Homo sapiens: one gene and its partner. The protein of the gene in region 2 interacts with the protein of the main gene of each other region in a pairwise test. Each region holds a gene or a part of one and is shown on either strand. Other genes may lie near its edges.

Region 1 (3,500 bases), on a different chromosome or scaffold from region 2:
GATTACAGGCACCCACCACCAAGCGTGGCTAATTTTTATATTTTTTTTTACTAGAGACGGGATTTCACCATATTGACCAGGCTGATCTTGAGCTCTTGACCTCAAGTGATCTTCTGGCCTCGGCCTCCCAATGTGAAGAATGTTATCTTTATGGACTAACTTTATAATCTCTGCCACATTTTGTCAAATGATGGGTACTTTAAAAATGGGGTTCAAAATCTATACAAAAGTTACATTTAAAATTTTTGTATAGACTACTTAATGCTATGCAGTTGGTACTGGGTAGTTTCTTGGTCATGCAGTGTATTTGATAAATTATTTAGTAGCTATGTGAAGTAGCATTTTCAAACAGTACTGTCTTTCTAATCTACCAAGATATTGCATAGAAGTTCATATTTACCCAGAAATTATGCAAGTTCTTAAAGCCAGAGTTTTTTCAACCACAGCATTTTACAGGATTTCTGTGGACAAGAAATTAATGTATTTTATGGGATATTTGTATCTTTAAAGTGGAATTTGCATGCTGGGAATGCTTTAAAAAGAAAGTATTTGCATAAATGTCATGTACATAGCTAGTAATTTTGAACATTTATTCCACTGTTGGAATGTCTTTTTGCTTGAATAAGAACTTTTCTGACTCTTTGCTCCAAGAAGACACATAATGACACATAATCTTGCATTCTTGATGGCAGATGTCTGCTGTTAGTGAAAATGATGAGTCGTGTACATATTTCATACTTCTGTTTTGTTCTTCATAGTTTTGTTTTTCTCTTTGACTTATTACAAGCACAGACTCTTTAAATTTATTGAAATATTTTATTCTCTTACAGTTATTTATAACAGTTAAATAATTTCTCTTAAAATATGCTAAAAAGTTATGTTTTCTTTTCTTTCTAGGAGGCACTGGCTACAATTAGGCTTCTCGACGTCCTGTGCGAAATGACTGTGAATACTGAGCTGCTCGGCTATCTGCAGGTTTTCCCTGGCTTGCTGGAAAGAGTGATTGGTGAGTGAAATATCACACATTGTATTTTTAGCTAAGAAATCTTTGGCTTGTCATACTGTAATATAAATCCAAATACAAATCCTTAATTTTCAGTGTACTTTGGGAATTTTGTGAATATATTTTTTTGAGAGGAATCACAGTGTTGTAACAGTTCAGGCAGGCCAGATAAACCTGAGCCCATGTGTTTGTTCAGCCACTTCCCTTCTGTTAACTGAAGATTCCTTCTCAGTAATGTGAGGATAACAATGCCTGTTATGCATATAGTAGATGTTTCATCAATATAGGATGTGATGAAGAAGGTGGGGCAGGCAGGTTTGCGATGATGATTGTGGTTTTATATTACTATAGCTTTGTAAAATGTGGCAGTAAATTTTTCCCATTTACATTTAGTGAACACATAGAATGGTGTTTTATACATATTATATATACAAATCTTATGAGAAAAAGGTTTTAAACAAGAAACCATTGTTAAAAGTATTACCAACCTTGCTAAAAAGCTGTTTGCAAAATAATTCAAGTAGAACCTGTTCCTTGTGGCTAGCCATGCTTAGGTTTGCTGTTCATTATTTGCAATTTTTTCCTTTAAAAAGATGATACTTACTCTGGAGACCAGTGTCCTGAGAAAGATGACTTTGTGTCTAGCAGTATAGATGAGCTAGCAGTCAGCTGTAGAGGAAGATCCTTAGAATTCCTCATCAGTGTTGTATTTTGAGTACATTGCTTTTAGTGATAATTTAAATAAAACACCACAAACCTAGCACACTTGAGTGATTATGGAAGGAGCCTGAGTTTGGAGCCAGGGTCGATGTGGGTTGCCATCCCAGCTCTGCCAGGTGCCAACTTTTCTGAGCCTGTTGTTTTCTTCATTATAAAATTGGGAAAGTGATACCTTCCTGTATAGGTTTGTTGAGAGGGTTAAATGAGATAATGTGGAAACACTGAAATGCAGTTCCTGGAAGATTGTCTGTTTTCATTGGCTGCCTGGAGGTGCTCATAGAGTAGAGCAGTGGTAAGTTCTTTCTCCTGAATGTAGCTGGAGTGAAGTATAGAGAACATATGCTGGCTTCTGATGATTTGGCCAGTTGGATGAGGGAAAAATAAGCACTCTTCTTGGTTTCTGTCATATGCATCATTATGGATAGATATTGTGTTTTAGACTTCATTGACTGAAGTTATTAGAAAAGTTCTTTCATAAAGAAGTTGAGATTGGAAACCTTTTTGTAAGAAGGATGCTAGCAAACTTTTAGCTAACTTTTTTTGTAGATAAATAGAAACTCTGAGTTGGGGTAGTCATTATGGCTTATCTCCCCAAAACTAGAGTCAAAAAATTTAAAGCAAAGGCAGAAGAGCCTTCTAATCATTTTTTGAAGCAAAGGCAGAAGAGCCTTGTAATCATTATTTAAATAAAGCTTTCTGTGCTCTACCTTTAGCCTATTACAATAAATTAGATTTGTCTATGGAAAACTATTAGTACAACATACTAAAAGTTACTTTTCTGTGGAAAATGAAGTTTACTCTTTTGGTTATAGATCTTTTGCGGGTGATTCATGTAGCTGGAAAAGAAACCACAAACATCTTCAGTAATTGTGGTTGCGTGAGAGCAGAAGGTGACATCTCCAATGTGGCCAATGGGTTTAAGTCTCATCTCATTCGTCTGATTGGAAATCTGTGTTACAAGAATAAAGATAACCAAGACAAGGTAAGAGGATTTCTTAGTATGTATTATACATGTATGGCTTCATTTAGAATATAGTCCTTGGAAGACATTCACTCTTTTGGAGTGAAAGCTTGAGGTGCTTAGAAAGTAGCTTGGATAGAGAGATATATATTTTATATGAATACACACACACACACACACACACACACACACACACACACACATATATATACACACACACACGTGTGTGTGTGTGTGTATATATATATATGTATATGTTAATATATAGGCTCTTTGGAGCCTAGACAAATTTCTAACACACAGTAGATATTTAATAAACACTAGTTATTATTGCCTATTATCTTAAAAAACAAAGCTTAGATCTATATCCTATGTTTATGGACGATAGCATCATAAGCCTTTTCTTCTAGATGTTTTAAAATGGATATAAAAGGAATATAATATTTAAGTATGAAGTCTTTGAGGACCTAGTAGGCTGCTTTTAGAAACCTCTTATGTGCAGAAGAGCTTAAAGGTAGTTATATTGAGAATGTGAGAGAATGGTAAGAAAGATCTCAGGGCAGTTGGACCACATGCTTCAGATTGATCTCGCCTTTCTGTATTTTTCTGGAGTTTTACTTCGGGTGGCATTTGATTTGCTTAGTTAAATATTAATTAAATTTCTGCCAGATTATATTTTTCTAAGATGGTGGCAGAATGTCTTGCATTGTACATGTGTGTCTGCAGTATGACTTTGCCACTCCCCTGTCGAGGGTTGGCATCTATTTCTCCATCCACTTGAATCTGGGCAGGCCCTGTGGCTGCTGTGAGCAATCA
Region 2 (3,500 bases):
CGCCATTGTCATCATGGCCCGTTCTCAATGAGCTGTTGGGCACACCTCCCAGACGGGGTGGTGGCCGGGCAGAGGGGCTCCTCACTTCCCAGTAGGGGCGGCCGGGCAGAGGCGCCCCTCACCTCCTGGACGAGGCGGCTGGCCGGGCGGGGGGCTGACCCCCCCACCTCCCTCCCGGACGGGGTGGCTGCCGGGCGGAGACGCTCCTCACTTCCCAGACGGGGTGGCTGCCGGGTGGAGGGGCTGACCCCCCACCTCCCTCCCGGACGGGGCGGCTGGCCGGGCTGGGGGCTGACCCCCCCACCTCCCTCCCGGACGGAGCGGCTGGCCGGGCAGAGGGGCTCCTCACTTCCCAGTAGGGGCGGCTGGGCAGAGGCGCCCCTCACCTCCCAGACCGGGCGGCTGGCCGGGTGGGGGGCTGACCCCCCCCCACCCCCCTCCCAGACGGGGTGGCTGCCGGGCGGAGACGCTCCTCACTTCCCAGACGGGGTGGCTGCCGGGCGGAGGGGCTCCTCACTTCTCAGACGGGGCGGCTGCCGGGCGGAGGGGCTCCTCACTTCTCAGACGGGGCGGTTGCCGGGCGGAGGGTCTCCTCCCTTCTCAGATGGGGCGGCTGGGCAGAGACGCTCCTCACCTCCCAGACGGGGTCGCGGCCGGGCAGAGGCGCTCCTCACATCCCAGATGGGGCGGCGGGGCAAAGGTGCTCCCCACATCTCAGACGATGGGCGGCCCGGCAGAGACGCTCCTCACTTCCTAGATGGGATGGCGGCCGGGAAGAGGCGCTTCTCACTTCCTAGATGGGACGGCGGCCGGGCAGAGACACTCCTCACTTTCCAGACTGGGCAGCCAGGCAGAGGGGCTCCTCACATCCCAGACGATGGGCGGCCAGGCAGAGACGCTCCTCACTTCCCAGACGGGGTGGCGGCCGGGCAGAGGCTGCACTCTGGGCACTTTGGGAGGCCAAGGCAGGCGGCTGGGAGGTGGAGGTTGTAGCGAGCCGAGATCACGCCACTGCACTCCAGCCTGGGCACCATTGAGCACTGAGTGAACCAGACACCGTCTGCAATCCCGGCACCTCCGGAGGCCGAGGCTGGCGGATCACTCGCGGTTAGGAGCTGGAGACCAGCCCGGCCAACACAGCGAAACCCGTCTCCACCAAAAAAATACGAAAACCAGTCAGGCGTGGCGGCGCGCGCCTGCAATCGCAGGCACTCGGCAGGGTGAGGCAGGAGAATCAGGCAGGGAGGTTGCAGTGAGCCGAGATGGCAGCAGTACAGTCCAGCTTCGGCTTGGCATGAGAGGGAGACCGTGGAAACAGAGGGAGAGGGAGACCGTGGGGAGAGGGAGAGGGAGAGGCAGAGGGAGAGGCAGAGGGAGAGGGAGAGGGAGAGGGAGAGGGAGAGGGAGAGGATCAGTGTTTTTTTAAAATGTTTGTCTTGATCCATTAATCAGTCTGAGGTATAATCGATCTTTGAAAAAAGAAATAGAAGAGAATAGAGTAGAATAGAAAATACAGCCATGCACTGCATAACCATGTTTTGGTCAATCACACCACCTGTGTGATGGTGGTGCCATTACAAATATAATGGAGCTGAAACATTTCTGTCTCCTGGTGACATAGTAGCTGTCATAATGTCATAGCACAGTTTATTTTTTTTTATAAATGTAGCCTAAATGTATGGTGTGTTTAGTGTACAGTAGTGTATACAGTAATGTCCTAGGCCTTCGTATTCACTCACCACTTAATCACTAACTCACCCAAAGCAACTTTCAGTCCTGCAAGCTCCATTTATGGTAAGTGCCCTCTTAGGTGTATTGGTTTTTATCTTTTATATTATATTTTTACTGTACCTTTTCTATGTTTAGATATGTTTAGATACACAAATACTATTATGTTACAATTGCCTGTGGTATTGAGTACAGTAACATGTTGCACAAGTTTGTAGCCTAGGAACAATAGGCTGTAACATATAGCCTAGGTGTGTAGCAAGCTGTACTCTCCAGCTTTGTGTAAGTACACTCTATGTTGTTTGCACAACAAACTCACCTAACAATGCATTTCTTAGACTGTATCCCTGTCATTAAGTGACACATGACTGTGTCAGTGTGTATCACACATATTAAGGATAAGATTTGATGAAGTTTTATATTCTTTTTTCTCCTCTCTATCTCTGTCTCACACATATATCATGCATGTATATGTTCTGAGTTATGATGTATTTCTTTCTGTGGGTGAGATTTTAAAAGTTCAGTAAACATTGGATTAGATGAAATTCATGTTACAAAGTTAAAGATACTATACTAGAACTGATTGTAGAAAAGATACAGATTAAATTATCTTTGCTTAAAATACAATGGATAAGAAAGACATCTATAAAAATTAATAAAGCAGGCTGTGACAGGTTTTCCAACAAGTACTGTTGAAGAAATCCATATATTCAAGTTTTTTCTTCTTCAAGTTTTTAAACCCTCCAAATTAAATAAGTATGAATTTATCATTTTGAAAAATACTACCTATCTTACTTTTATCTATGTTACTTATATCTTTTGAGATTGGGCCTGGGAAGCTGTGAATCCAGAGTTGGCTCCTGTAATGAAAACAGTGGACACCGGGTATGTGGAGAAATATAAACCATTGGATGTGTGTCTGTTACTAACTGATGTTGTTCTTCTACGTATATCTTAATTTCTCAATTTGAAAGCAAACTATTAATATTTAACAAGACATATTCCCTTGAAAGGCAAATACCACATTCAGTTTCTCGTCCTCTGAGAAGTCAAGATTCTGTCTTTAACTCTATTCAATCAAATACTGGAAGAAGCCAGGGTGGTTGGAGGTGAGTCTACTTAAAATTTCTTTCTTCTTCTATTCCTTCTCATTTTCCTGTCTTCCTCTTCATTCTTCCCTCCTCCTTCACTTCGTTGTTTCTCAGACAGAATTACATTTAGGAAATTTCTATAAATAACAACTATGGCAGTATTAATTATGTTTTATGAAAGAGCTTAAGAGAACATGCATGTAAAACTTAAAAAATATGTAAATTTCACAGTGATTATGCTTCAAAAGATTCTTAATATGACAATGAAATTTCTGCCAATATTCATTGCTATGAATTTATGATTTTGCTTATGGGTTATTAATGATTTAATTGACAATAGACAGGAATCATATCTTAGTATTGATTATATTTAGGACTTGAGAACCAATTAGAGTGCTCAGTCTTATCCTGTAAGACAGCCGGCTTCAAGGTAAACGGAATGGCAGAAGAAAGAAAAATGGAGGCTGTGATGCATATGCATCTGCAATAGTAGGGGCTCAAGAAATGAAGAAGCTGGTCAAAAAGATGGTGAGGGTTCTTGCCATAAGGACCAAAGCTTAATGTTTAAATAGTATGAAAAAATTGATAGAAAAAGAACATGGATTTCTCTTGGTTGGATTTTAGTAGCCTTGGATAAATGGCAATATAGAAGGAAATGATTTTGGAAACAAAGTGCTGGGA

The links. Proteins that work in one complex are often made in the same cells at the same time.
Region 1: the proteins of SPATA22 (region 2) and ATXN10 interact in binary tests that used the Homo sapiens proteins (3 or more experiments, as listed by UniProt).

What each region holds. Positions count from the first base shown.
Region 1 is NC_000022.11:45,737,834-45,741,333, forward strand, and holds part of ATXN10 (ataxin-10), read left to right. Parts: intron 1-897; coding exon 898-1,006; intron 1,007-2,535; coding exon 2,536-2,705; intron 2,706-3,500. UniProt on the Homo sapiens protein: May play a role in the regulation of cytokinesis. May play a role in signaling by stimulating protein glycosylation. Induces neuritogenesis by activating the Ras-MAP kinase pathway and is necessary for the survival of cerebellar neurons.
Region 2 is NC_000017.11:3,461,820-3,465,319, reverse strand, and holds part of SPATA22 (spermatogenesis-associated protein 22), read left to right. Parts: intron 1-2,552; coding exon 2,553-2,613; intron 2,614-2,741; coding exon 2,742-2,837; intron 2,838-3,500. UniProt on the Homo sapiens protein: Meiosis-specific protein required for homologous recombination in meiosis I.